Homo sapiens: one gene and its partners. The protein of the gene in region 1 interacts with the protein of each later gene in a pairwise test. Each region holds a gene or a part of one and is shown in the gene's direction. Other genes may lie near its edges. The genes, in order: SOCS7, SORBS3, YES1 and MISP.

Evidence for each region.
Region 2: the proteins of SOCS7 (region 1) and SORBS3 interact in binary tests that used the Homo sapiens proteins (3 or more experiments, as listed by UniProt).
Region 3: the proteins of SOCS7 (region 1) and YES1 interact in binary tests that used the Homo sapiens proteins (3 or more experiments, as listed by UniProt).
Region 4: the proteins of SOCS7 (region 1) and MISP interact in binary tests that used the Homo sapiens proteins (3 or more experiments, as listed by UniProt).

The regions. Positions count from the first base shown.
Region 1 is NC_000017.11:38,361,827-38,368,850, forward strand, and holds part of SOCS7 (suppressor of cytokine signaling 7), read left to right. Parts: intron 1-2,925; coding exon 2,926-3,030; intron 3,031-3,481; coding exon 3,482-3,583; intron 3,584-4,015; exon of another isoform or gene 4,016-4,207; intron 4,208-4,460; coding exon 4,461-4,591; intron 4,592-6,055; coding exon 6,056-6,224; intron 6,225-7,024. UniProt on the Homo sapiens protein: Substrate-recognition component of a cullin-5-RING E3 ubiquitin-protein ligase complex (ECS complex, also named CRL5 complex), which mediates the ubiquitination and subsequent proteasomal degradation of target proteins, such as DAB1 and IRS1.
Region 2 is NC_000008.11:22,561,922-22,568,945, forward strand, and holds part of SORBS3 (vinexin), read left to right. Parts: coding exon 1-10; intron 11-2,065; coding exon 2,066-2,156; intron 2,157-2,361; coding exon 2,362-2,448; intron 2,449-2,546; coding exon 2,547-2,600; intron 2,601-2,887; exon of another isoform or gene 2,888-2,952; intron 2,953-3,085; exon of another isoform or gene 3,086-3,152; intron 3,153-3,346; coding exon 3,347-3,433; intron 3,434-3,807; exon of another isoform or gene 3,808-3,904; coding exon 3,905-3,951; intron 3,952-4,067; exon of another isoform or gene 4,068-4,322; intron 4,323-4,423; coding exon 4,424-4,563; intron 4,564-4,739; coding exon 4,740-4,792; intron 4,793-4,900; coding exon 4,901-4,947; intron 4,948-5,139; coding exon 5,140-5,254; intron 5,255-7,024. UniProt on the Homo sapiens protein: Vinexin alpha isoform promotes up-regulation of actin stress fiber formation. Vinexin beta isoform plays a role in cell spreading and enhances the activation of JNK/SAPK in response to EGF stimulation by using its third SH3 domain.
Region 3 is NC_000018.10:739,219-746,242, reverse strand, and holds part of YES1 (tyrosine-protein kinase Yes), read left to right. Parts: intron 1-191; coding exon 192-295; intron 296-385; coding exon 386-535; intron 536-2,827; coding exon 2,828-2,983; intron 2,984-3,145; coding exon 3,146-3,325; intron 3,326-6,431; coding exon 6,432-6,508; intron 6,509-7,024. UniProt on the Homo sapiens protein: Non-receptor protein tyrosine kinase that is involved in the regulation of cell growth and survival, apoptosis, cell-cell adhesion, cytoskeleton remodeling, and differentiation.
Region 4 is NC_000019.10:747,257-754,135, forward strand, and holds the start of MISP (mitotic interactor and substrate of PLK1), read left to right. Parts: upstream 1-3,855; 5' UTR 3,856-3,915; intron 3,916-6,879. UniProt on the Homo sapiens protein: Plays a role in mitotic spindle orientation and mitotic progression.

The DNA.
Region 1 (7,024 bases):
AGACCTGTTGGGAAACACTTACAGATGCATCACAGGGAGCTGTAGGCGTGTCTGCAGTTATTTCCTTCATTCCATGCTTAGTGGGTTTGGGGTGAGGCTATTTTTATGGTATGGAATGTGTTCTTGACTTTGGATGCTTTATAGTTGGAGGTAAAGGCTGCTTGTTGGTAATTAGGTGGCCTGGGTGGCCCTAGCAGTTATGCAGTGCTTAGTTCAGGGTCATCACATATAAATTAAAACTAGGAATTACAAATTTATGGGCTCACAGTGCATAAAAGACTCTCTAGAAGTCATACAATTTCTGTCTCTGCTTCCAAGGGAGTTCATGGGTTATCTCATAAAAATGATCCATGATTATCTGGTCTATTTTTAAAGACTTTTTTGGGCAAAGGGGATTACATGAGCTCTTGTCTTTTTAGGGGCTTGCAGTTCCTGCAGCTGTTAGACTTCTTTATTGTATCTAATTTAAGTCTGCCCTCTTGCAGCAGGGAACACAGTTGCTAAACTAGGAAGGCTGTAGAATCTCCTTTGGATGATGGGTAACTGCCTTCTCGTTTCGTAGGGAGCTTTTTCAGAGAGGGAGACCTTCTGTTATGTCAGTCACAGGTGAAGCTCCTGCATGAATAAGCTGGAGAAAAGTGGGGCTTTGCCCATGTCTCAGAAACTGAGTACTTCTCATTGGTTGTGACTGAGAAGCCTTTAAAAAAAATCCCAATCTCAAACTCCTTTGGATATCATGTCCCTCAAAAAGGTGATTGGAAGACTTACGATTTGGGAATGGATGCTTCCAGGAAAATGTTAAGCAGGCCAATGAGACTTGCAGCTGGGTAGACTGCTGTGAACTGTCAAAACAAGTGAATTGGTACCTGTATAGGCATCTACTGTAGTGGAGAAGGAGGTCTCTGTTCTTACCCAAGCCCAGAATTAAAAAATCTTATCTTGCGATACCATGTCTTTCTAGTTAATAGTTGTTTCCTCATTAAAGTAAGGAACATGGCTTGGTCACGGTCACGGTGGCTCATGCCTATAATCCCAGCACTTTGGGAGGTTGAAGTGAGCAGATCATCTGAGGTCAGGTGTTTCAGACCAGCCTGGCCAACATGGTGTGAAACCCCGTCTCTACTAAAAATACAAAAAATTAGCTGGGGCATGGTGCCGCACGCCTGTAGTCCAGCTACTCGGGAGGCCGAGGCAGGAGAATCGCTTGAACCCGAGAGGCTGAGGTTGCAGTAAGCAGAGATTTTGCCACTGCACTCCAGCCTGAGCGACTGAGCCTCTGTCTCAAAAAAAAAAAAGGAACACCACCTACATTTGTAGTTTGAGGTTCAGGTCAGCCTCAGCCCTCTTGAATGACGTCCTTTATGTTAAGTGCTCTACCAATAGTCTAGACTGCTCTGGCCTGTCAGGAAATACACTTGTCTGGCTCCATCGCATTGCTCTGGGCAGCCAGGCTTTCAGTTACCAAGCTGTATGGTGAGTCTGGTACCAGCTTTCTAGAACTTCCACTGATGGCTTTTGTTTATTTTTGACACAGGGCCTCACTTTGTCTCCCAGGCTGGAGTGCAATGGTGCAGTCTCAGCTTACTGCAGCCTCGACCTCCTAGGCCCAAACGATCCTCCCACCTCAGCCTCCAGAATAGCTGGGACTATAGGCATGCACCACCATACCTGAATAATTTTTATATTTTTGTAGAGACGGGGTCTTAACGTGTTGCCCAGGCTGGTCTTGAACTCCTGAGTGCAAGTGATTCGCCTACCTTGGCCTCCCAAAGTGTTGGAATTACAGGTGTGACCCACTGCACCTGGTCTCACTGATGACTTTTAGAAGAGCTTTTCTGTTTATCTTAATTAGTATTCAAGAGCTTTGTAAAAAAACTGTGTATTTAGGTTCTGAAAGCCCAGTTTCCTTTGGTAGATATTGGTCACCTCATTTTCTTAACGGGGAAACATTTAAAATACTAGCTGAGGGGCTCATTCAGCCCTGAATTAAAAAAAAAGGTGTTGGAAGGAACACCGTAAGGGCTAAATTAGAGAAATCCTGAGTTCTGACTTGTGCATCAGGCCTGCCAAAATAACCGTATTCCTGGCTATCAGCTTGTGTTCATATTAATAAAATACCTTTCATCCTCTCGTGACTCAAGTGGAGAGGGAATAGACAGAGTTGGGTGGCAAGGAGTATTGTATATGGCAGGGAACAGAACTGCATGACATGCTGGGAAGAAGAGAGGCCATGTGCCTCCTCCCACCAAGTTCCTATGGAGAAGCTGCCTCTTAGATTACCTGACTTTTGTCTGACTGTGAAAGTAGTTAATTTTTAGGACTATAAATTGTACTTTCAGCCTTTGTAGCCTCAGCTGTTAAGAACAGATATCTTATTCAGGTAGATTCTCTTATGTGTGAATACTCTGGAAAATCAAGATATGGACTGCCCTCTAGGAAGAAGTTAGGACTAACATTGGGAACTTTATCTGCATTCAGCTTACCGTACAGTTCTTAGGTTTTCTGGCCCTTGCTTTCCATGTCTGTTTGGGCATATAACAAGCCACTTGGCTTGCTTCCTAAGGCAGAAATTGATACACAATTCTGAAAAAATAAATGGTATGGGTTCTATTGGATAAAGAAGACCCCTTGTTTGAGGGTACGTTGTAAGTCAGTGGCGGAACCAGAATTAGATGGTTTTTCCACTGTCAGTCCCATGGTTTTGTCCTAAAGAATCCTTGACCCTTAACAGGGCAAAGGAATGATAGAATTTAAAAATTGACTTCCTGGTGTTGGGGTGATTTCAGCCCTGGGGGCATTAGGTTTTGAGCTTTCTGAGAGCAGCAGACCCCCAGCCTCGCCTGCTTGCCCTTTGCTTCCCTTTGCTTTCTGCATCAGCTTTGGGCAAGGCGCTTCTGTAACTTGCTTGCTCCATGAATCCCTCAGGTGAAACTGTGTCGCTTGTGGATGTGGACATTTCTCAGCGGGGCCTGACCTCTCCACACCCTCCAACTCCCCCTCCTCCTCCGAGAAGAAGCCTCAGCCTCCTAGGTATAGTTTCTTCCCCTCTCCACCTTCTTGCCTAGTGGGAGGGTGAGCTCCAGGGACTTGTTCTTTGCTGGGGGCCGACCACGCTTCTGGGTTTCCGATGATGACTCAATTATTTCCCAGCTCTTTCTCAGCACCCCGTCATCTCCCTAAGCAATTAAATGGGTCTCACCCGCATGCTGTAATACTTACTATACATATATTAATTCAGTTTACATTTATCTTGCCTTGAACCCACTGCTATTGGGCTGCATTAGGAATATCCTTACTACCCTGCTTTCCAAAAGCAAAACAGAGTAAGATGATTGTTGCCCTCTGTGCAAAAAGACTGGGTGAAGGTTGGGCCATCCTGCCCCAGAGGGCAGCCTGATAGTCCTTCTCCCTCTCCTCTGCCTTCAGCGTGCTCATTCTGTGCTCACATTTCTGAACCTCTTGCTTTTGTTCTCTCTTCTAGATGATATCAGTGGGACGCTGCCTACATCTGTCCTTGTGGCTCCGATGGGGTCTTCCTTGCAGTCTTTCCCCCTACCTCCGCCTCCTCCACCCCATGCCCCAGGTTAGCTTAGTTTAGAGGCAAGACTTGTAAGAGTTGGGAGTACAAAGTGATACTTTCTACCATAGAAGGATGGGAGAAATCTATTTATGGAAATAACAGCTTAGTAGAAAGTTTAAATCTTTTCCCCTTGGCTGGACCAGACTCCTTAGAAATGAGGCGGAGAACTGGTTTTCCTAACCCGTTTTCTTTATGGAGGTCAATCTGATTTTTGTTAGGGATGAAAGACTACTGAATTTTTCATCAGTCTTTGCTGCTGAGACTGTTTTGCAATCCTTGAGTAGATATCACTTAAGAAACTGCCTTAATTTCAGGATAGTGAGGTTTAATATGTTGGTGGTTTTCAGCATTCTATGGTTTTTCTAAGCTTTTAGTATTTACTGCAGCCTTGTAAATAAGTACCAAGCATTTAGCAGCCCATACCTGCTTTGCCAGCTTACAGTACCCAAGGAATAAAATGAATGAAATCAGCATTCTTTTCTACTTGCCTGGCAAAATCATTACTCTTCCTGGGCAAGTAAGCGAGTCACTATTTCCAAGGCTGCCTTATCGGCACTTCACTTCGAGGTGGGAGAAGTTGGAATCGCTCTAGGCTGGTGAAGCCCCTGAAGTAGTCACCTTAGTAAGGTTAGTGAGCAGCTCCCCTCCCCCTTTCTTGGGGTCAAGTGCCCCCACCCATCCTTCACAGCTTACACAAGCCCACACAGCTTTTTGTTCCAGCCCATCCAGCTCTTTGCCACTGCTTTGGCTTCTACCCTTTCCAGCTTAGCTTCTAATGCCTTGCCCTCTTCAGTTAGCATCCTCTGTTTTTGGGGGAGGGTCTATTTGTGGTTGGGAGCAGTGAGGGTAAACAAGTGACCACCACTGTCTTGCCCTGCAGATGCATTTCCCCGGATTGCTCCCATCCGAGCAGCTGAATCCCTGCACAGCCAACCCCCACAGCACCTCCAGTGTCCCCTCTACCGGCCTGACTCGAGCAGCTTTGCAGCCAGCCTTCGAGAGTTGGAGAAGGTAGGTGGTACCTAAGGACTGGCAGGTCACTTCTCCTCCCATTAGCTAAATTCTGTATTCGGACACACCTTTATTTATGTGTTTATTTATTTTTAGAGACAGGGTCTGGCTCTGTTGCCCAGGCTAGGGTGTGGTGGCATAATCATAGCTCACTGTAGGCTCAAACTCCTGGGCCAAAGGATCCTTCTGCCTCAGCCTCCTGAGTAGCTAGGACTGCAGGCATGCACGACCAAGCCCAGCTAAAATTTATTTATATTTTTTGTAGAGACTGGTCTTGCAGTTTCCCAGGCTGGTCTTGAACTCCTGGGCTCAACGTGATCCTCTTGCCTCTGCCTCCCAAAGCTCTAGGATTATAGGCGTAAGCCACCACACCCAGCCCCTGTTTATTGTTTTCAGAGGAAGAATAGTTTACTTGCTTCCATATTTACAGTGACAAAACAGTGTGCTCCTGCTATTAGTTCCATGAGATGTAATAAAATTGAATTTGGGGAAAAAATTTGGACATGATAAAGGTTGTTGGAGAAATGTTTTACATAGTCTAAGCTGATTTTGATAGATTAACTGACCCAGTTCCCTCTTCTTTTCTTGGTAGGGTCTTTGGTAACAAAATTGTAGAATTATTATTCTTTGTTTTTTGTTGTTGTTGTTGTCTTGTTTTGTTTTTGAGACTGAGTTTCGCTCTTGTTGCCCAGGCTGGAGTGCAGTGGCGCAATCTCGGCTTACTGAAAACTCCGCCTCCTGGGTTCAAGCAATTCTCCTGCCTCAGTCTCCTGAGTAGCTGGTATTACAGGCGCCCACCACCATGCCCAGCTAATTACTGTATTTTTAGTAGAAATGGGGTTTCACCATGTTGGCCAGGCTGGTCTTGAACTCCTGACCTCAGGTGAGCCACCTGCCTTGGCCTCCCAAAGTGCTGGGATTACAGGTGTGAACCACTGCGCCCAGCCATTTTGTTTTTTGTTTTTTGTTTTTTTGACACAGAGTCTCACTGTGTAACCCAGGCTGGAGTACAGTGGCGCAATACCAGCTCACTGCAACCTCCACCTCCTGGGTTCAAGCGATTCTTCTGCCTCAGCCTCCTGAATAGCTGGGATTACAGGCATGTGCCACCAAACCCAGCTAATTTTTGTATTTTTAGTAGAGATGGGTTTTCACCATGTTGGCCAGGCTGGTCTCGAACTCCTGACCTCAAGTGATCCACCCGCCTCAGCCTCCCAAAGTGTTGGGATTACAGGCATGAGCCACAGCTCACGGCCAGAATTATTATTCTGTTACTTTGGAGGGCTAAAAGTATAGTGAGCCTGATGTTCATTGCTAATGGTTGAGACACTTGTAAGTGGCTTTTACCTATTGAAATATTTTGGAGAGAATGCAGAGGGTTCTCCCATGTTAAGATAGATTGCACTGAAAACTTTGACATTTCTCTGTCCTGATAACTAGTGGACTGCTTCTTGTCTTTGATAGTGTGGTTGGTATTGGGGGCCAATGAATTGGGAAGATGCAGAGATGAAGCTGAAAGGGAAACCAGATGGTTCTTTCCTGGTACGAGACAGTTCTGATCCTCGTTACATCCTGAGCCTCAGTTTCCGATCACAGGGTATCACCCACCACACTAGAATGGAGCACTACAGAGGTAAGAGATACTGGTAAGAGAGGCTTCTTCCCCCCTTGATTTGCTCTACCTTTGCTGTCTGACTTTTTTGTGGAAGAGATTCATAGGAATGGAACTACAAATAGGGGAAAAATTATCTTAGACTCAGTTGAATATTGATATGAGCGCTGATTTCCGTCACTAGAAGAAATGGAGGGGGTAGGGAAGGGAGAGTAAGGGTTCCATTTAAAAGTCTTGTCAGCAGCATCTTGTTTCCTAAATAGGAGGGCCTGAACAAAACTGTTGGAGAGGCTCCCGAGAAATGAGCCGGTAAAACTCTTTAGGTAAAAGGAAGAAAGAACCTAGGACCATTAGGCAAATTCTCACAAGCTTTGTTTGTAGTTAAACTTATCATCTAGAGATATTTTGTTAAATCACGTATACAAAGAGGGTGAATTTAGTGTTGATCCTGTAACTGTTCTGTTCTGAATTTCTTTCTTTTTTTTTTTTTGAGACAGAGTCTCGCTCTGTTGCCTAGGCTGGAGTGCAGTGGTGCGATCTCAGCTCACTGCAACCTCCGCCTCCTGGGTTCAAGTGATTCTTCTGCCTCAGCCTCCTATGTAGCTGGGATTACAGGCATGTGCCACCAGGCCTGGCTAATTTTTGTATTTTTAGTAGAAACAGTGTTTTATTCTGTTGGCCAGGCTGGTCTCAAACTCCTGACCTCAGGTGATCCACCCGCCTCGGCCTCCCAAAGGGCTTGGATTACAGGTGTGTCTGAATTTCTTTGTCTGATAGTCACTTTCTCCCAGGCAGCATGGTGATAATTTCCTCTTTTTGTC
Region 2 (7,024 bases), on another chromosome or scaffold:
CTTCCAGTGGGTGAGCACAGTGGGGCGGGGCCGAGGGCTGCGGAGGGGCGCGGCCCGCGAGACACCATGGGACGGGCGCCCCCTCGTGACCACAGCCGGCACAGCCTCGGAGCCCAGCCAGGAGTGGGGTCTCACTTCCGTGTCCGTCTGGGCTCTGTCCCATCTCTGGGTCTCCACCACCCCCATAGACTCTCTTCCCTACAGGGTCAAGGGGGGAAGGGTAGGCAAGAGTGGACCTGGCACCCGCTCCTGGCCAGGAACGCCTGTGATGCGTTTGTGGTCAGCAGCAGGAACTCTTTGCCCCAAAGATCCCACCGGTCTTATGAGACCGGGAGTGGGGCGGCCAGGACAGCCGTGGACAGAACTGTTGAGGGGAACTTGGACCTGGCGCTGTCCACTTTGAAACCTGAGAGAAAACAAGGGATATGGAAGAACCCAAGTTCCAGCCTGATAGCACAGAGAGAGGAGCCCCTTGGAGGGATAAGGATGACATTCCTTTCCTCTGTGCAAACCACAGGCTCCGCCCGGCTGCTGGGGCCCTGGCGGGGTCAGCACCACCGTGGGAATCAGGATCTTTGCTCTCAGAGTTAAATCCTTGAGTTTCTTATTCCCTTGCAGGGAAGGACTCGTCTCATTAGCATGGCTGAAACTGGCCCGTAGCTCTGGGCATCACCGATAAGGTTCAGAGGCAAAGGGCTCAAGATTTGGACGCTGAGTTCTGGGTTTAAGCCTGTGCACTGCCACTAGCCATGTGACTGTGGGTACCTCACTCAGTCTGAGCCTCTGTGTCCCCATCTTTTAAGTGGTAATGCCCAGAGGGTTCAGTGTGATCATGTGTGTATCATGCATCATGTTTTGCACATAGCAAGCCTGCACAAACATTAGTAATATACAGGCTTAATTATGATTACAAGGCTGGGTGTGGTGGCTCACGCCTGTAATCCCAGCACTTTTGGAGGCTGAGGCGGGCGGATCACGAGGTCAGGAGATCGAGACCATCCTGGCTAACATGGTGAAACCCCGTCTCTACTAAAAACAATACAAAAAATTAGCCGGGCGCGGTGGCGGGTGCCTGTAGTCCCATCTACTCGGGAGGCTGAGGTAGGAGAATGGCATGAACCCAGGAGGCGGAGCTTGCAGTGAGCCGGGATTGCGCCACTGCACTCCAGCCTGGGCGACAGAGCGAGACTCCGTATCAAAAAAAAAAAAAATTATGATTACTGCTTCCTTAGGTTAGGAATGACATTCTCACAGTCACTTTTATTATTACCAAAATCAGAATGGAGTCATTATTACAGCCAACAAATCCCAACCCTTGGTCAGACGTTGTATTATTTGATAAGCCTGATGCAGTGGTTCCTCTCAGTGGAAACTTTCAAACAGAGGCTGGAACATTCCATGTAAGCCAGCCAGCAAGGGGCCCTGGAGGGGAGCTAAGGCAGATGTGTCCATGCTGTACTGCAGTGGCTGGGGTGGTCTCACAGACAGAGTCACTGAATCCAGCACCCTCATGGAACTAGGCCCAGGGAGCAGAAATAACTTGGCCAGAGCTGCAGGGCAGAGCTGCCTCTGGCTTTCCTTGCCCATGGGTGTACGATCACTCAGCCACAGCACCCAGAAAGACCAGCTTCTTCAAAGCTGCACAGACGCACATAGCCACAGTCATGGGGCCAGACCAAACACACATACAGGACACTTTAGCAAAAAGGCCCACAGGAGAGGGTCGGGCCACACCTGGAGCAAATATGTGTGTGAGGCCTTCTCCCGGGCACCTCATATATGTTCTCTCACCAAATCATTTCTATATTACAGGTTCTGAGCCTGAGGCTCTGAGGGATCAGTAACTTGTTCAAAGGTTACACATCCACTAAACAGTAGAGCTGGAATTTAAGCTTGGAGCTCACACACTTCCACAGTTTAATCTTGCTTCCAGAGTAACGGCAGGGCAGTCAGAGGCAGAGTAGACCCCACAGCAGGGACAAGGGCAGGGTGAGAGGGCTGTGTGCTGGCTTCTGCCTCAGTCTCCCTAAAAGGAAGCTGAAGAGATGTCCTTCCCTTTCTTTAGAAGAAGCTGGGACCACTCTGAAGAGTTACCTAGAAGCACCTTCAACTACAGACCTGGAGCATTCTCCACTGTGCTGCAGCCCTCAAATCAGGTAGCCCACCCAGCATAGTCCCTGGTCAGCCCCAGCTGTATGCCGTATGGCCAAGACCCTATGCCACGATGTCCTTTCAGCTTGAATCCCTTGGAGGACACCGTGGGCCCAGGGGAAGGGCAGGGGCCTGCAAGCCTGCATTTTGAGCCTGGCCAGTGTCCCAGTAGCCCTCTTCACAAGCTGACACCCACCCACCTCCACGCAGGTGCTCAGACGCCGGGAAAAAGTAGACAATGTCTGGACGGAAGAGTCCTGGAACCAGTTTCTGCAGGAACTAGAGACTGGGCAGAGGGTGAGTGCTGGCTGGCTCTCGGGGTGTGCACGCACCCTCAGCTGATACATTTTGGAAAGTGAGTTCACCTGCTCTGACACACCCTTTCTACCCTTCAGCCCAAGAAACCGCTGGTGGACGACCCTGGTGAGAAGCCCTCCCAGCCCATTGAGGTGAGTGCTGCAGGGTGCTGGGGACAGCAGCCTGATAAACCAGGGAGATTAGGGTTTTGGTGGCCCCAGTAACCATGGGCATAGGCCACGAACTAAGAGCTCTCTCTCCAGTCCCACATGGTTTATTTCTGTAATGCCAGCACTCAGGACAGTGGCTGGCATACAGGAGGCGCTCAGTAAACATGTGTTAAATAAATATGTGTTGGCCAAAGCAGGAGCAGAAAAGGGAGTGGTCAGTGCGCACTGGGATTATCAGGAAATATTCTTGGAGGTGGAGCTGGACCCTTGAGAAGCTCCGAGGGCCTGATTCGGCGAAGACCCATAGCAGAGGCTGGCAGGAAGCAGCGTGGGGGTGGGGGCTCCGGTCCCTGGGGTGGCGGGGGAACCTGGATGGGCACAGTGAAGCCAGGCCTTGGAGGGCGGGAGAAGATGGGAGAGGAAATGGGGAACCCCATTGGTGCTGTAACAGAGACACAACTTGGCAGAAACTGGCAGGACTGCGGAATCGCGGGATCAGGAAGCGCGTAGGCACTCCCGGGGCGTGCTGGGCAGGTGAGAGGCCGTGGCGGGGATGCCCTCTTGGCACCCTGGGCCACACCTCCTGGCAGGAGCCCGGCCCGTGCGCTGAGGCCTGCCCTTACGCCGGCCCGGTGCGCTGGCCTTGCTTTTCACAGTCGATCTTTGACCGCTGCCTCCCACCCCCACGGTGCGCTGCCCCTCACTGCCCAGCCTCTCCCCGCCCCCAGGTGCTGCTGGAGAGAGAGCTGGCCGAGCTGAGCGCCGAGCTGGACAAGGACCTGCGGGCAATTGAGACCCGACTGCCGTCCCCCAAGGTACCAGCCCCCAGGGTTCACCCGCGGGGCACGCCGGCGACCGCAGGGTCGGGGCGAGCCGGGAGCCTCGGCGGCTGGGCTGGGCGGAGGACGGGCAGCCGAGGTCCGGCCTCCAGCGGCGCGCACCGGCCTCGGGCCCTCCTGGGCGCTGGCGGGCTCGCTCCTCCATAAATAAAATACAGGGCGTCGACTTTCGCAAGTGACCCCGAGGAGCCTTTCTAAGCGGACTCCACGTCAGCCCGACGACCGGGCGCCCGCCCCGTCCGGCCCCCGGGCCCCAGCCTCGGGGACCCCCGCCCCTTCCCCTAGTTCCCGCCCCGCTCCCGGGATCGGCCGCGCGGGCGCCTCTAGGACCCCGCGTCCCGCCCGCTCTCCTCCCCTCCCGAGCCGCGAACTTTTCCGGAGGCGGCGGCCTCGGCTGCCGCTGGGTCCCGGGGTCGCGGGCCCTGATTGCGCCGTTTCCCCGCGCAGAGCTCGCCGGCGCCCCGACGGGCCCCGGAGCAGCGGCCCCCGGCCGGGTGAGTGGGAGACGCGGGAGGAGGAAGGGGGCTGTCCCAGGCCGGGCGGGAGGGAACGTGGCGCGGCCGGGCGGGGCGGACGGGGGCGATCGCGGGGCCCAGCCGGGGGAGGAAGGAACCGCAGAGCCGTGTCCGGGAGGGACCGCAGCGCCACTCTCTGCGGGGCGCCGTTCCCGCGCCACCGAGGGCAGCTAACTCCTAGCAGAGGACCGGGGTCGCGGCCGCCGGGGGCGCAGCGCGGTTAGGGCGGCCCCGCCACGGCCCAGGCACTCCCGCTGGGCCCTGCCGGGCCTCACCCTTCCCCGCGCAGCGACTCGGGAAGTAGGACATCCTGTGGAGAGCCCAGGACCCGGGAGACGCCCTGGGAGGAGGTGGCAGGGATGGGGGCGATGGGGGGTCAGAGCGGTCTAGGGGTGACCAGGGTGGGGTGCGGAGCCCCAGGCTGGAGGCTCAGTCTCTGTGCCCCGTGCAGCCCGGCCTCAGCCTGGAGCTCCAGCTACCCACATGCACCTTACCTGGGTTCCGCCCGGTCCCTGAGTCCCCACAAAATGGCTGATGGAGGAAGCCCCTTCCTAGGTCGGAGGGACTTTGTCTACCCTTCCTCAACCCGAGGTAAGGACCCAGCCCTGCTCTCTTTCTCACGGAGATGCCCACCCACCAGGCATGTTGGTGCCCCAGGGGTGGCAGGTCACAGAGCCCCTTGCTTCTGCCAGTGCCTGCCCTAGGTGGGGGTGCAACCCCATCCCCCAGGTATGGCCTCCCCAAGCTGAGGTTGTGCTTCTCCACAGACCCTAGTGCCTCTAACGGAGGGGGCAGCCCAGCCAGGAGGGAAGAGAAGAAGGTAAGGAGGGGACCAGGTGTGGGGGACCTGGAGTGGTCCCAAGGCTGCCATCCTGGATCTGCCACCCGCCCAACTGAGAGAGCCCACTCTGTCCTCTCCCCTGCCTAGAGAAAGGCCGCCAGGCTCAAGTTTGACTTCCAGGCGCAGTCCCCCAAGTAAGCGCCCTCCTCCCCCTCCCCTTCCACCCAAGGCAATCTCTGCCATCCCAGAGGGGGATGGGGAGGGGGACTGGGCTGCAGTGGGCATCCCCAAGGGGTGAGAGAACTGGGGTGTGTTGGGCAGGGTCTGAAGGGAAGGAGGCTTGGGAAGGCTTCAGCTTACCCTGCGGTCCTCGTCCCCACCTGCAGGGAGCTGACTCTGCAGAAGGGTGACATTGTCTACATCCACAAGGAGGTGGACAAGAACTGGCTGGAGGGAGAGCACCACGGCCGCCTGGGCATCTTCCCTGCTAATTATGTGGAGGTGAGCAGGAGAGACAAGAGCAAGTGGGGCTGGGCTGGGAGGGCGCAGGGGTTGGGAGAGACTTAGTGCAAACCTTGGGTTTCCTAAAGCAAAAAACTGTGAGGGGCTGGGGCGTGTCTCGGAACTGTCCTTGGCCCCCACAGGGCTTGGCCCAATGCTGTGCATGACCCCAGGAAATGTTTGCTAAATGAGGGTGGAGCCTAGCCCAGGGGAGGACCCAGCAGCCAGCTCCTCAACCATTCGTGTCCCAGACTTTCACCATTCAGATCCGTCTTTCTAAAGCTGTCTTTGGAAATCATCCTAATGGCAACTAGCAAGAGTGGGAAGTGTGCGACAGTTTATAAATCACGTATACACGCATAACCTCTTTCAGGTGTATTACCGCCCTGGTTCCTCTCACTGCCCAGAGAGTGATAGATTATCTCTGTTTTACAGATGGGGATGCCAAGGTTCAGTGAAAAGTTATTAAGTAAAAGATCCAGAATCTGAATCCAGGTCTTTTGATTCCAGAGACAGGTTCTGGGCTTGACAGATAAAGGGCGATAGGTTATCTTTGCTATTTGTGACTTTTAAAATATGTCAAGTTATCCAAATTACTGGCATAAAGGTGTTCATTATAGTCTCTTACTATCCTTTTCATGTCAGTAAAATATGTAGTGATGTCTTCTCTTTCTTTTTTTTTTTTTTGGAGAGACAGAGTCTTGCTCTGCTGTCCAGGCTGGAGTGCAGTGGCGGGATCTTGGTGCACTGCAACCTCCACCTCCCTGGTTCAAGGGATTCTCCTGCCCCAGCTTCCTAAGTAGCTGGGACTACAGGAATGCGCCACCACGCCCAGATAATTTTTGTAATTTTTTAGTAGAGATGAGGTTTCACTATACATTGGCCTGGCTGGTCTCGAACTCCTGACCTCAGGTGATCCACCCGCCTCAGCCTCCCAAAGTGCTTGGGTTACAAGCGTGAGCCACTGTGCCCGGCTGATATGTTCTCTTTCATTCCTGATGTTGGCAATTTGCGTCTTCTCTTATTCTGTCTAGAGCTTTATTAATTTACTTGATCTTTGGATTTTATTCATGTTTTTCTCTCGTTTTTGTTTTCGATTTCATTGAGTTCTGCTTCTTATTTGCTTATTGTTGCTTGCTTTTGGTTTAATTTGTTATTTTTCTAAGTTTCTTAGGATGAAAGTTTAGACTATTGATTTGAAACATTTTTCCCTAGAATGCTGCTTTAACTGCATCTCACACATTTTGATTTTTCATCAACTCTTGACTGTTTTCTCATCTCGTCTGTGACTTCCTCTTTGACCCATGGGTTGGGTTGTTGTTTAATTCAGGCTCTTGTTTTGATAGGTATCATTAGGCCTCCCTTGCTTACACGATGATCCACTTGGTCCTGAAATTTCACAAAGTATATACAGTATTTCACTCCGCCAGTCGTTTCTATCTTTGTGTGAAATGGTTTATTGGCTGCTTGATTTTTATGGGCAGAGTGAAGCAAAGAGAACGTGAGGATTCTGGGCTCCGGCTGGGGTAGATGGGGAGGAAGAACCGAGACGCTGGAACCCAGGGACACCCGGTTCTCAGCAGTGAGAAAAGGGTGAATGCTCAGTTTTGGAACAGTTCCCCAAGTTCCCCTTGCTGCTTGGAACGCCTCATTTTCTTCTGTGGTCCAACTTAAACTCTCTAATTGGACTGGCTTCCATCTTTTCTCTTGGAGTTCTTCACTTCAGTAATGCCCACTCCATATATCCCTATGGAAAATTCTTCTTCCAGG
Region 3 (7,024 bases), on another chromosome or scaffold:
TATATTCTAACAGTAATATTTGTGATATTACTATTTAATCAATAAAACTCTTACATTTTCCTGTATTTTGAGCCATGTTCTCTAGCTATTCTTTGTCGTCCAAACCTATCCCAGTCCATTCTTACTGACACTTCTGTATAATTTTTCTGAACCTCATACTTTTCAATTCAAAACACTTAATTTTTTTCCAGATGGTATTTTGGCAAAATGGGGAGAAAAGATGCTGAAAGATTACTTTTGAATCCTGGAAATCAACGAGGTATTTTCTTAGTAAGAGAGAGTGAAACAACTAAAGGTATGAATATTGTTATATTAGTATAAGTATAAAATTTCTTGGGGCAGTATTTTGAGAAAGATATAGTGAAAGTATTTATTTTTCACCCAGGTGCTTATTCCCTTTCTATTCGTGATTGGGATGAGATAAGGGGTGACAATGTGAAACACTACAAAATTAGGAAACTTGACAATGGTGGATACTATATCACAACCAGAGCACAATTTGATACTCTGCAGAAATTGGTGAAACACTACACAGGTATGTGAATATTTCAAAGGTAAAAATTATTTCTTCATATTCTAGTTTATGAGGACAAAATCCATATCCTCATTTCTCTTAAGATTTAACACACTTATTTACACATAATACATGCCCAATAAATGTCTGTTGTATTCTAAAGGGAGGAACAGGTAATACTTAGTACTTGCATTGTGCTACTCAGATAATGTGCTAATAGACTCTCATCATTTGGGTCCTTATATCTTACTGGCATAGTATTTACATTGGAGTTCATTTCACCACATGTACCTTATGAAAATAAACCTAAAAGCAAATATTTATGGGCACTTAGTAAGTAAAACTAAACATTGGGTAACAGAAAAAGCTATGTCAGAAGGATTACCTTCCTCTGCATGGGCTGGATCGCATAAGCTTTCCTAAAGTATAAATCCAGTGAAATTTGGTCTGACGATGCATTTTTCTTATCCTAGAAAATTAACCTATAGCAATTATAGACATTTTTGTCTTTCAAGGACCTCTGAAGGTATTTAATATTAGAATCTTCTGTCTCAAAATTTTTCATTACCAATTTGGCATATGAATGCACCTGAAAGTCTTTACATGATTAATACTAGGAGAGGGGATGTTTCCATGGTAATGTCTTCAATGACAGCTAGCTGCAAACTGAGTCTATCAAGTCAGCCAGCAATCTTGACATTGATCAAGCATGTTACCAAGCAGTGGCATCACTTGTAATTGCCTTTGTCACAATGTGAATTTATGTGGTTATTTTAGTGAGAATAGGAGAGAACATGTCTCATTTATAATAAGAAAGATTGTATAAGCAGAATTCATAAGTCAAGCTGTTATGAATCTAGGGTTCCCTGACTTTGTGTCTCCCTTATTTAAAAAAATCAGTCTCCTGTTAGGCATGTGGATTGTGCCTTTAATCCCAACTACTGATGCAGGAGGATCACTTGAGGCCAGGAGTTCAAGAACAGCCTGGGCAACATAGCAAGACCTCATCTCTTAAAAAAAAAAAAAAAAAAAAAAAAAAGGCCAGGCGTGGTGGCTCACTCCTGTAATCCCACCACTTTGGGAGGCCGAAACAGACAGATCACTTGAGGTCAGGAGTTTGAGACCAGCCTGGGCAACATGGCAAAACCCTATCTATTAAAATATAAAAAAATTTAGCCAGGCGTGGTGGCATGCACCTGTAGGCTCAGCTACTTGGGAGGCTGAGGCAGGAGAATCACTTGAACCTGGGAGGTGGAAGTTGCAGTGAGCTGAGACCACACCACTGCACTCCATCCTGGGCGACAGAGTGAGACTCCATCTCAAAAAAAAAAAAAGAAAAAATCTCCTAAATGATCCTAAATGAACTTTTTCCTTGATTTTTTGGTATGCCTCTTACAAATTAGTGGCTATTAGATAATAACATTTAATGATAACATTCTCTTTGAGAATTAATAAAACCCAGTGTACAAAGGCAGAACTTTGGAAGCAGACAGACCTAGATTTGAATCCCATCTCTACCATTTACTAACTGCAGGGCCTTAGGGGAAAGTTGCGTATGTTTTCAAAGCTTCATTTATATATGAGATACTTGTGAAGTGCTAATTTAGCACAATAGTGGAACATACTAAGTATTTAGTAAATAATAACTTAAAAAAATATATATTTTAAGTTATACTAAGTATTTAGTAAATATACTAACATATCTACTATATATTAGTATATACATACTAAGTAGTAAATACAATATATTTACTATATATTAGTATATACATACTAAGTAGTAAGTAATAACATGTATATATATATATATTTTTTTTTTTTTCGAGTCAGAATCTCACTGTGTCACCCAGGCTAGAGTGCAGTGGCGCAATTTTGGCTCACTGCAACCTCTGCCTCCTGGGTTCATGCGATCCATCTGCCTCAGCTTCCTTAGTAGCTGAGACTACAGGCATGCACCACCATGCCCGGCTAACTTTTGTATTTTTAGTAGAGACAGTGTTTCACTGTATTGGCCAGGCTAGTCTCGAACTCCTGACCTCGTGATTCATCTGCCTCAACCTCCCAAAGTGCTGGGATTACAGACGTGAGACACCTTGCCCGGCCTTAAAAATAAATTTTACAAAATGTTTCACTTATGTATATTTCATGTTTTGCTGCTTATGGACAACTCCCTTTTTGTTTTGTGCTTTTAGAGTAAAACTCGAAAGGACTTCTGTTTTTGTTTTTCTACAGTTTAAACTTAAAACATTGATACACTATATGCCCCTTAATTTTTGTAATTGATATTACAGTATAGTTTATTCATTTATCTAGAACATGCTGATGGTTTATGCCACAAGTTGACAACTGTGTGTCCAACTGTGAAACCTCAGACTCAAGGTCTAGCAAAAGATGCTTGGGAAATCCCTCGAGAATCTTTGCGACTAGAGGTTAAACTAGGACAAGGATGTTTCGGCGAAGTGTGGATGGGTAAGAAGCCTGAATTTTTGTTTTCTGTCATTGTTTAGCTGTGGATTAAAGTGCAACAATTTATGATAAAATATGTTTCAATATTTAAGAGAAGTGCTGTTCACTGAAGTTTGGTCTAAAATCCTTTAAAATATAAATTCCTAAAATGTGTTATTTCTTTAGGAACATGGAATGGAACCACGAAAGTAGCAATCAAAACACTAAAACCAGGTACAATGATGCCAGAAGCTTTCCTTCAAGAAGCTCAGATAATGAAAAAATTAAGACATGATAAACTTGTTCCACTATATGCTGTTGTTTCTGAAGAACCAATTTACATTGTCACTGAATTTATGTCAAAAGGTATGTATTAGTATCTCCTTAGGTATTTGTGTTGATAATGTTTTTAAGAGTCTTGATTTGTATGCATATAGACTTATACTGTTTTCTAATTTAAGATTTTTATGTAGACATATTTGGATAGAAGAAACCTGACACTTTGTTTAATGGAATAGTGATTATCCAGTTATTCCAGAGGATAGTATGACGTTTAAAAGGAAAAGTAGGCAGGCTGAATTAATTTTGAAATTAAGTTTGACTAAAACAAATGGAAAAGCTAGAAAGGTGAAAAATAGAAAGTGTTTGTACACATTTAATTAAAATGATAAAATCAGAAAGATACTTACATTTTTAGTACTAAAGCAAAGAAATAAGGTAAAGTTAAAATGAATTAGTTTTCTCATTTTAATATAAACATAATTCCTATATTCAGGACTTCTAGGAACTTTTTTCCCCACTGCTTTCTTTTTTTTTTTTTTTTTAAATAGAGACTGGGGTCTCAACTATGTTGCCCAGGCTGGTCTTGAACTCCTGGCCTCAGGCAGTCCTCCCTTTTTGGCCTCCCAAAGTGCTGGTATTACCAGCATGAGCCACTGTGCCTGGCCTCCCCACTACCTTCAATGGAAGTTTCTTCATTTTCCTTAACTCTAGACCACAAGATGGGATCTTCAGTAACAGGGTTAGTTAGGGGGAGGATAAAGAGAAGATTGATACTCTTTCCTCTTTTTCCCTGTGCAGATGGTACTTAGAGGAACTAGTAAGTCAGCAGATAAGCTGACAGGCCTGATTTTTATGTGTTTGATTTCATCTGCTTTATTATTATTTTTACTCTTGAACCAATAATATACAGTAGTCACTAATTATGTCACCCTCTCCAGTGGTGTGTCTTGGTCAATGATGTAGTTCCATCTAGTGGTGACAAGGACAACTACAAGTTACATATTTGCTGTAGGAAAATTTTTCCCCTCAAAAGGGGACTGAAACCAAAAGTTAAGAAATTATACAGCCTATTAATTGATAGCCAGAACACACCTAAAGACCCAAAGCACCTGGCGCTCTTTGGAAGGAATGTCTACTGCAAACAGTTGCCAAATATGACATTTTTTTGTTTGTTTGCTTGTTTGTTTGTTGTTTTTGTTTTTTTGTGAGGTGGGGCCTCACTCTATCCCCCAGGGTGGAGTGCAGTCACATTTCTCTGCAGCTTGGACCTCCCTGGGCTCAAGCGATCCTCTCATCTCAGCCTCCTGAGTAGCTGGGATTACAGGTGCATGCCACCACACATAGATAATTTGTGTATTTTTCTACAGATGGGATTTCACCCTGTTTCCCAGGCTAGTTTGGAACTCCTGGGATCAAGCAATCAGCCTGCCTTGGCCTCCCAAAGTGCTGGGATTACAGGTGTGAGCCACCACACCCAGCCCAAATATGCCCTTTCAAAGAGTATATTAGATGAACCAGAGGGGAAGGGAGGGCCAGGCATGGTGGCTGACCTGAGCAACATGGTGAAACCCCATCTCTACAAAAACTAAAAAAATTAGCAGGACGTGGTTGCACACACATGTATTCCCTACTCAGGAGGCTGAGGCATGAGGATTGCTTGAGCCCAGGAGGTTAAGGCCATAGTGAGCTGTGATTGTGCCACTGCACTCCCATCTGGGGTGAAAAAATGAGACTGTCTCAAAAAAGAAAAAAAAAAAAAGGAGAAAAGGACAGGGAAGATGTTTAAATCAAGATATTGGAAGCAGGCCAGGCACAGTGGTTCATGCCTCCAATCCCAGCGCTTTGGGAGGCCGAGGCAGGCAGATCACTTGAGGTCAGGAGTTCGATCCCAGCCTGGCCAACATAGCGAAACCCCGTCTCTGCTAAAAATACAAAAAACAGCTGGGCGTGGTGGCTTGTGCCTGTAGTTCCAGCTGCTCGGGAGGCTGAGGCACGAGAATGGCTTGAGCTAGGGAGGCAGAGGTTGCAGTGAGCCAAGATGACACCGCTGCACTCCAGCCTGGGTGACTGAGTGAGACTCCGTTTCAAATAAATAAAGACTTTAACAATTAAAAAAGATATTGGAACATAAGAAATATAATGAAGGTAAGGCTAATAGCCCATTTAGCTCTGTATATTAATTTTAAGAATTATTTAATTGGGAGAACATGGTAAAATTCTGTGTTGTCAGACCACTGGGTACAATTATTTCCAGGCGGGAGAGATTTAGAATACAAGATAACAAAAGTCCTTTCTATTTTTAAAACTCTTTAATTCCTCATTTTGGTATTCACTTAGCACTTGTCCCTTTATAATCTGTCCAAACTCATTGTCCCATGCACTCCAGCATAAACCCACTGTTCTGCTCTTTGTTTTCATGATTTTTTCATGTTTTCTCTTTGACCTGGAATTTGGTCTCCCTAGCTCTGGACCAGTCCACCAACTACACTTCCCCGATCCAGTTTATGGTCAGGCATTCCATTTAGTTGTCATTTCTATTTAGTCTCCTTTAATCTAGAGCCATTCCTCAACCTTCCTCTGTCTTCCATAGCATTGTTACTTCTGAAGAGAATAGACCACTTTTATGTTTTAAATGTGCCTTAATTTGGTTTTGTGTGATGTTTTCTCTTGATTATAAGCCTTAACAAATAATAGTGAAGCCGTAATCAGACTTCTAGCCTTTTTCTTTGCTGTTATTCATAGTACTTTGTAGTTTTCAGAGAGAGAGCTTGGTCACAGCAGTAGTTCCACAGCGACTCATTTAGCTACCTATATTTAGTTTTAACCACACCCAAGATATTCCTAGTTGTCTGAATTCTTGATTCAGATTTACTTAAAAATATGTAAGTATTTAATACTACTTTTTGAATCAGAATTGGGATATTGATCAAAGCGAGGAAAAAATGCCTCTTGTCAGGTAAAGTTAATGCATTTTCTTTTTTTGCATGTGTTATCAGAAGTTTTCAAAATTTCAGCTTAGAGACCTCTTCTAGGACCTAGATAATTATTTGGAAACTGCAAAACTGCACAAAATTTAAAAAAAATGAAAAGCTAAGAAGTTTTGTGTTGTGATTTGGGGTGGAGGAGTATTCATTTCAATCCTAATATAAGATTTGCTTATTTTTTATGAATATCTTGCTGTCTGTTACAGGAAGCTTATTAGATTTCCTTAAGGAAGGAGATGGAAAGTATTTGAAGCTTCCACAGCTGGTTGATATGGCTGCTCAGGTATCTGTATATATACATGTATCCATTTGAATTAAAAGTGTAAATTAAAATGTGGAATAATCTTACCAGAATATTATAGTATGTGTAGTGAAATGGTGGGATTTTATTTTTATTTTTTATTTTTTAGAGACAGCGTCTCATTCTGTCACCCAGGGTGGAATGCAGTGGTGCACTGATAGCTCCGTGCTTGAAGAGCCTTGAATTCTTGGGCTCTAGCAATCCTCTCGCCTCAGCCTCCTGGGTAGCTAGGACTGCAGGCACAGGCCACCATTCCCAGCTAATTTAAAAAATTATTTTTTTTGTAGACACAGGGATCTCTCTGTGTTGCTTAGGCTAGTCTCAAAGTCCTTGGCTCAAAGGATCCTCCCACCTCAGCCTCCCAAAGTATTGGGATTACCTGGCCAATAATGGAATTTTAGAACTGGCAGGAACGTCAGAGATAATCCAATGTGAGCTCTTAATGATACAGATTAATGAAGTATCAAAAGATGAGAGGTATCTAAAATTCACAAAACT
Region 4 (6,879 bases), on another chromosome or scaffold:
CTGAGGCCTGCTCAGGCCCTGGAAGTGAGGCTCTATGGGGTTCCCTGGCCAAGGCGCTGGCCCCCCAATCTCAGGCAGTTGGGGTGAGGCCGTGCCTCTTTGGGGGCTAAAGGTCTTGGGTGGAGGACAGGCCCCTCTGCTGTGCCCCTATGCCCTGTGTGGGCCCAACCAGTGGACAATGGAGTCTGGGGGAGGGGGAACCCCGGGGACATGCCCCCACCCGGGAGGGGCCGGTAACCCCTGGGCTATCTTCTAGACGGGGCGAACCAGGGGTCATTGACCTGCCCCCTGCACAGGGCAGGGACCGAGTGAGCCACTCCTTGTCCCGAGCTCCCGCCCCCACTGGGCCCTCCTTCCTCCTGGTGCTAATTTGGGGACCCCAGGGGCCGCCCCCGGCCTCTTCTCCATCCTGCTTGGACCAGGGTCCTGGGTCTTCCCAACCATACCCCGAGATCAGGCCCCACCTGCCAGCTCTACTGGGCTTGGAGCACGTCCGGGCAGTGGAGGGAGGGACACAGCCTGGGACAGGAAGCCTCTTGGGTTGGAGCAGGAGACCCTCATTTGCCACCCAGACCAATGTGAGCCTGCCCCCAGCCCCCTCTCATTGGAAGTGGCAAGGGGCTTCCCTCCTGGGGGCAGCTACACTCGTCCCCAGAGGCACATTCGTGCACATTCTCACAGACACCGTCTCACACGTTGGCTTTGGACAACCAGGCCCCAACTTGGTCCCTGCCCTAGGGACCTCCAGCCTGGTGCCCAGTGCTCAGGCCACCTCCTGGTCCAGTCACCACCTGCAGCCTCGGCAGGGCAGGTACAGGGGCCACCTCGGATGGGAGCCTGGGTCCCTGCCTCCGCTCTGCCCCTGGGTGGCTGGGAGGAGAGGCCCTCTCGGGGGTGACCTGGGCGTCAGCCGTGGAACCCCCTCCTCCTCCCTGGAGTCTGCCTGAGTCCCTCGAGCCGCGAGCCTTCGCTGAAGTGCCCTTGCTATAACCCCCTCTGCTTCTGGTGTGTGACGAGGCCCCCGATGTTCTTGATTTTCCCAGAGAAGCAAATAAACAGCGTGAACAGCCCCAGTTCCTGGAGTTCTTGCCTTTCAACCTGGCGAGGAAGGCGTGGCCAGGCCAGGGGGTGGGGCCTGCCGGCCTTTGAGCCATTAAAGGGAGGCTGAGCAGGGTTGCGGTGTGCTGGCTTCACCTGCCTGCACCCGCTCACCCTGAGCGCCTTGGGGTGGTGGGAGGCGCTGGAATCCCCACTGTGCAGGTAAGGCCTGGCTGTAAGGGGCTGCTGTGGGGGGGCAGGACTGGCTTCCCGGGGGGCCCTCGGGTTCTGCGGCCGCCCCGTCCTGTCCTTTGTTCCTCCCTTTGCTGGGCTCACAGCCCCTGGGTGATGACAGAGGGTCCCCTGGACACCCACAAGCTCTGTAGAGAAGCCGGCCCCTGGGAAATACACAGGAGGCCTGGGGAGGAGGTGTCTGTAGAGACCAGTGTCATGCTCACGGGAAGGTGCTGCCCCGCCAGCCCCACTCTCTCACGCTGTAGTCTTGGAGAAGTCGCTGCCTCCTCTGGGCCTCAGTTTTCCCATCTGTAAAATAAGCCTTCGTGGCCGGGCACGGTGTTTCACACCTGCAATCCTAGTACTTTGGGAGGCCGAGGTGGGCGGATCACAAGGTCAAGAGATCGATACCATCCTGGCCAACATACTGAAACCCTGTCTCTACTAAAAATACAAAAACTTAGCCGGGCGTGGTGGCTCACGCCTGTAATCCTAGCTATTCAGGAGGCTGAGGCAGGAGAATCGCTTGAACCTGGGAGGCGGAGGCTGCAGTGAGCTGAGATCGTGCCACTGCACTCCAACCTGGGCGACAGAGCGAGACTCTGTCTCAAATAAAATAAAATAGGCCTTCGGAGCCCTGAGTGGGAGGCCAGCCTCAGCCTGGGCGTGGGACGTCTCCACAGTGCCCCCAGCTCATGGGCGATCCAGCCTCCACCCTGCTGGGGCCTCAGTTTTCCCCGATGAGGTGGTGAGTGTGGTGGAGAGCACTGCTGAGGGAACTCAGGTTCCAATTCCAGCCTAAACCCCCGCCATTCCTGAGGCGCGATTTTAAGCTTTCCGTACCTCCGTTTCCCTATCTACAAGCCAGGGAGAAAAGGACGTGAAGGGGGTGGCGGGAGGCGGCGGTGGGAGGCGCCGTGAGGCCGCGCACCCTGAGCTTTCACACACCCAGCAGCGTTAGGTGCCACGCTGTCCTTTGGGGGCCCTTTATCCAGATTTGTCCTTAAACACCCCCATCTTGGCCAGGCGCCGTGGCTCGCGCCTGTAATCCCAGCACTTTGGGAGGCTGAGGCGGGGGCATCACCTGAGGTCAGGAGTTCGAGACCAGCCTGGCTAACGTGGCAAAACCCTGTCTCTACTAAAAATACAAAAATAGCTGGGCGTGGTGGCTCATGCCAGTAATCCCAGCTACTAGGGAAGCTGAGGCAGGAGAATTGCTTGAACAGGGGAGGTTGCCGTGAGCCGAGATCGTGCCACTGCACTCCAGCCTGGGTGACAAGAGCGAGACTCCGTCTCAAAAAAAAAACACAAAAAAAGCACCCCCCTCCTGAGCAGCCCTGCTGGATTCGTAGCTGGGGGCCTTTTTACTCGAAGAAGAGACTGAGGTTCAGAGGGGCTCCACAAGCAGCCCCTCTGGCGTAGGTCAGGACAGAGCCCCAGCCTGGGGAACTGAAGTCCCTGCCCCCTCAGCTGTGTTCCCTGCCCTCATAGACGGCGCTAGGCCCAGTGGCCCGACTTCCCCACAGATGCTGGGCTCCCCACAGTCCCAGCAAGGCCTCTGCACCTTGACTAAGAATCCAGGAGGACCATGGGCGCCTGAGGGCCTCTGCGTCCCCATCTCTCGGGGTGGCCTGGGTCTTTTGACGGCCTCGTGCGGTTCTTTTTTTTTTTTTTTTTTTTTTTTTTTTGAGTTGGAGTTTTGCTCTTGTCGCCCAGGCTGGAGTGCAGTGGTGTGATCTCGGCTCACTGCAACCTCCAACTCCTGGGTTCAAGTGATTCTTCTGCCTCAGCCTCCCAAGTAGCTGGGATTATAATAGCGTGCCACCATACCCCGCTAAATTTTGTATTTTTAGTAGAGACGGGGTTTCGCCATGTTGGCCAGGCTGGTCTCGAACTCCTGGCCTCAAGTGATCCGCCCGCCTCGGCCTCCCAAAGTGCTGGGATTACAGGTGTGAGCCACCAAGTCCGGCCCCCTCGTATGGGTTTTTATGTGGATGGGGCCTAGGGAATTCCTCCCAGCAGCCCTGAGGGAGCCCGGGCGTGATGTTCCCCCACGTCCCGGAGGAGAAAACAGGGCTAAGAGAGGTCAGGTGGGATCAGAACCCAGGCCACACCAAACCCCCCCGAGTCTGCCAAACCTGGTTTATGCAAGAAGGGGGCCATCTAGGGGAGTTGCCCCAAGGGGTGGGCTGGGCCAGAAGGCACGGACGGGATTGGGACTCAGCCCCTCCGGCCCCCCAGGAGACACAGGCCACTGTGCACGCTGAGCTGCTGTGTGGCCCTGGACACCTGCTGACCCTCTCTGAGCGGTGCTGAGAGGCGGTGGGAGGGCCAGGCAGCCAAGGGAGGTTTCGGCTGAGTTCTGGCTCCTCGGGGCCACCTGGAGGCCCTGGGGGTGGAGGGGCAGCCGGCAGCGGGCACGGTGCCCGCCCTTGCCCAGCCTGGTATCCTCTTTCTCCCTCCTCCTCCTCTGGACTTTGTTTCCTGATCCCAGGTGGGGCTGGGGGGAGGGGGCACACCTGCCTCCCCTGGGTGGGGCCTCTGTTCCCTGGCAACCTGGCGGGCAGGGCGGAGCTGGGAGGCCTCTGTGCCCATCGAGGAGTCAGAGTGGAGGCTGCAGACTGTGGAGCCGGGAGCCGGCAGGTGAGGCTGGGGGCGCCCCGGGCCGGGCCGGGCGGGGATCCTGTGTGGGGCGGTTGGATCCACATTTGGCGTGGGAGCGTCATGTGTCTGTGGGCGGGGTCTGCTTGCCTGGCGGCACTTGGGATCCAGGGAGGCCCCCTGCCCCACCCCGTCACCCTCGGAGCCTCCCTGAGGCACCTTTCCCTCTGCCCCCGCTAGGTACTCTGGGGCCTCAAGGGCACCCACTGGGAGAGCAGAGAGGCCCTTGTCCCTGAACTCTGCTGGGGCTTTTGAACCCCAAATCCCAGAGCCCTCCAAGGGAGGGGCCGGGTTGGCACCCCCATGGTCAGAGGCCAGAGGGGCCCCTCCATGGTTCTGGGAATTCCAGAGGCTTCTGGAGAGATGCTTATCCGTCCCACCAGGCCCCTGACTGGGAGGCTCTGGGCAGTAAACACCCCCGTGGGGCTGGGGGCTGGTTTGGGGACACGGAGGAGGGGTGGCTGAGTACAGGCGGAAGGAGTCTCAGGCCGGGGCTGGGGACTTGGCCTGGGTCCTCGGGTGGGGGTGAGGTGGTAGCCTGGGATCCCGGGCAGCCAGCAGGGACTCGGCCCAGCGTCTGCCGGTGGAGCTCCGCCCAGGAGCCCAAGGAGCTGAGATGACTCAAGGGTGACTGCAACCCTGAGGGATGGGAAAAAGGAACGGGGCCCTCCCTTCTGCATGGCCTCCTTGTCTGAGTCTCGGCCCCACAAGGGAACCTTTGCCCCTCACATAGAGCCAACTGGCTGATGAGGAAGGAGGTGTGGCACCAGGGTCCATAAACCCAGTTTCATTCTGGTATCAACAGAGTTCAGGGTGAGGCTGGGAGGAGCAACCCAGGGGGCTTCCTGTAGGAGGGGGTGATTTGGAGCAAAGTCTGAAAACTGGCTTCAGACACTTGCTCTGTCATCGCTGTGTGACCTCAGATGAGCAGGTTCTCCTCTCTGGGTCCCAGCTCCCTCTCTCGAAAACCGGAGTCGAAAACGGTTCCAAGGTGTTGCAGGAAGAGTCTCAGGACGCCGAGGTCCTTAGCCACCGCCGGGCCTTGCAGGGGCCATCTTCCGTCCTGGGGCTCTTCCCCCGAGGGCAGCGCCGCTGCCCAAGAATGCCGGCCATGAGAGCCGCCGTGGATCCAGGGGTTTTTTTGGCCGACACAGTGAAACCCCATCTCTACTAAAAATACAAAACTTAGCCGGGCGTGGTGGCGGGCGCCTGTAGTCCCAGCTACTTGGGAGGCTGAGGCAGGAGAATGGTGTGAATCCGGGAGGCAGAGGTTGCAGTGAATGGAGATCGCGCCACTGCACTCCAGCCTGGGCGACAGAGGGAGACTCTATCTCAAAAAAAAAAGCGGGGGGCGGGGGTGGGCACTGAGGCACAGGCAGCAGGGGAGGGGGCCCAGTGGCCTTGAACCCAAGAGCTGGACCCCAGGCCCCACCCGCTGGCTTCAGTGAATCACTGGGGAGGAATGAGCAGAGGAGGATGCGTGCCTTCATCCCCACCCAACCCCGACCCCACTGGGAGACCCGGCACCTGCTCGAGGCTGGGCGGACAGCTCCCTTTCTCCCGGAGTTGACGTCTGATGTGGGTTATAAATCCCGCTGTGTAAACGTCTGTCCACTCACTGGGCAAACATTCCTACACCCGCCCTCCCCGGGGAGCTCCAGGGTGCAGGGCGTGGACCTGCCCAGCCCTTCAGGGCCAGAAGGCACGGTGGAGCCGGTCTGCATTCCGCAATGAGCCCGACCCCCACGTCTGAGCAGCTGGGATGAGTGGTGTTTGCCCAGCCAGTATTTATTAGGCGCCTGCTGTATACCAGACTCTGGGCTGCAGGAAGGGTGCTGACCTGTGGCCACAGCAGGCGAGAGCGAGGCCTGGGCTGACGGTTTCGGGTGGGAGAAGGCAAGGCCTTCCGTGAGCTGGGCAGGCGGCGTCCACGGAGGAGGAGGCCTCGGGTCAGGGGAGCCATCTGTGCGTCACGCTTTGGGAGGAAGCTCAGCTGTTTGTGTGGGATTTATTCACCAATGCCGCCTGGTTTTCAATGTTTCCCCTATTTTAGTTTCTGACATTTGATACGCGCGGAAGATTGCATGACACATTGCGTGTAGTTTCAACACGGCTCCCCACGGTCTCTCCACTTTATGCTGTTTGATGCCACTTTCCAGTTCAGAGAGGGGCTAAGTTTTTCTTTTTTTTTCTTTTTTTCTTTTTTTTTTTTTTTGAGGCGGAGTCTAGCTCTGTCACCAGGCTGGAGTGCAATGGTGCGATCTCAGCTCCCTGCAAGCTCCACCTCCCGGGTTCACAGCATTCTCCTGCCTCAGCCTCCTGAGTAGCTGGGACTACAGGCGCCCGCCAGCACACCCGGTTAATTTTTTTTGTATTTTTAGTAGAGATGGGGTTTCACCATTTTAGCCAGGATGGTCTCGATCTCCTGACCTCGTGATCCGCCAAAGTGCTGGGATTACAGGTGTGAGCCACTGTGCCTGGCCGACCCTGTCTGTTTAAAAACAAAAAAAAATGCTGCTGGTTGGTGTAAAGGCAGCAGATCTAAATAATAGCCTTGGTGGCCCGGGAGCGACAGTCCTGCTTTGTGGGGGTTTGTTTTTCTTTTGAGACAGGGTCTTTCTCTGTCACCCAGGCTGGAGTGCAATGGCACAATCTCAGCTCACCGCAACCTCCACCTCACAGGTTCAAGTGATTCTCCCACCTCAGCCTCCCAAGTAGCTGGGATTACAGGCCTGAGCCCCTGTGCCCAGCCGACAGTGCTTTTTTTAGGAGTCAGGAGCTCAAGCTTTTGAGATCCCTGTGTCTTCAGGTGAGGCTTCCTTTCCTCAACTATGAAAGATGATGTCTGCTGGACACGGTGGCTCACGCCTGTAATCCCTGCACTTTGGGAGGCCGAGGCAGGCGGATCACCTGAAGTCAGGAGTTCAAGACCAGCCTGGCCAACAT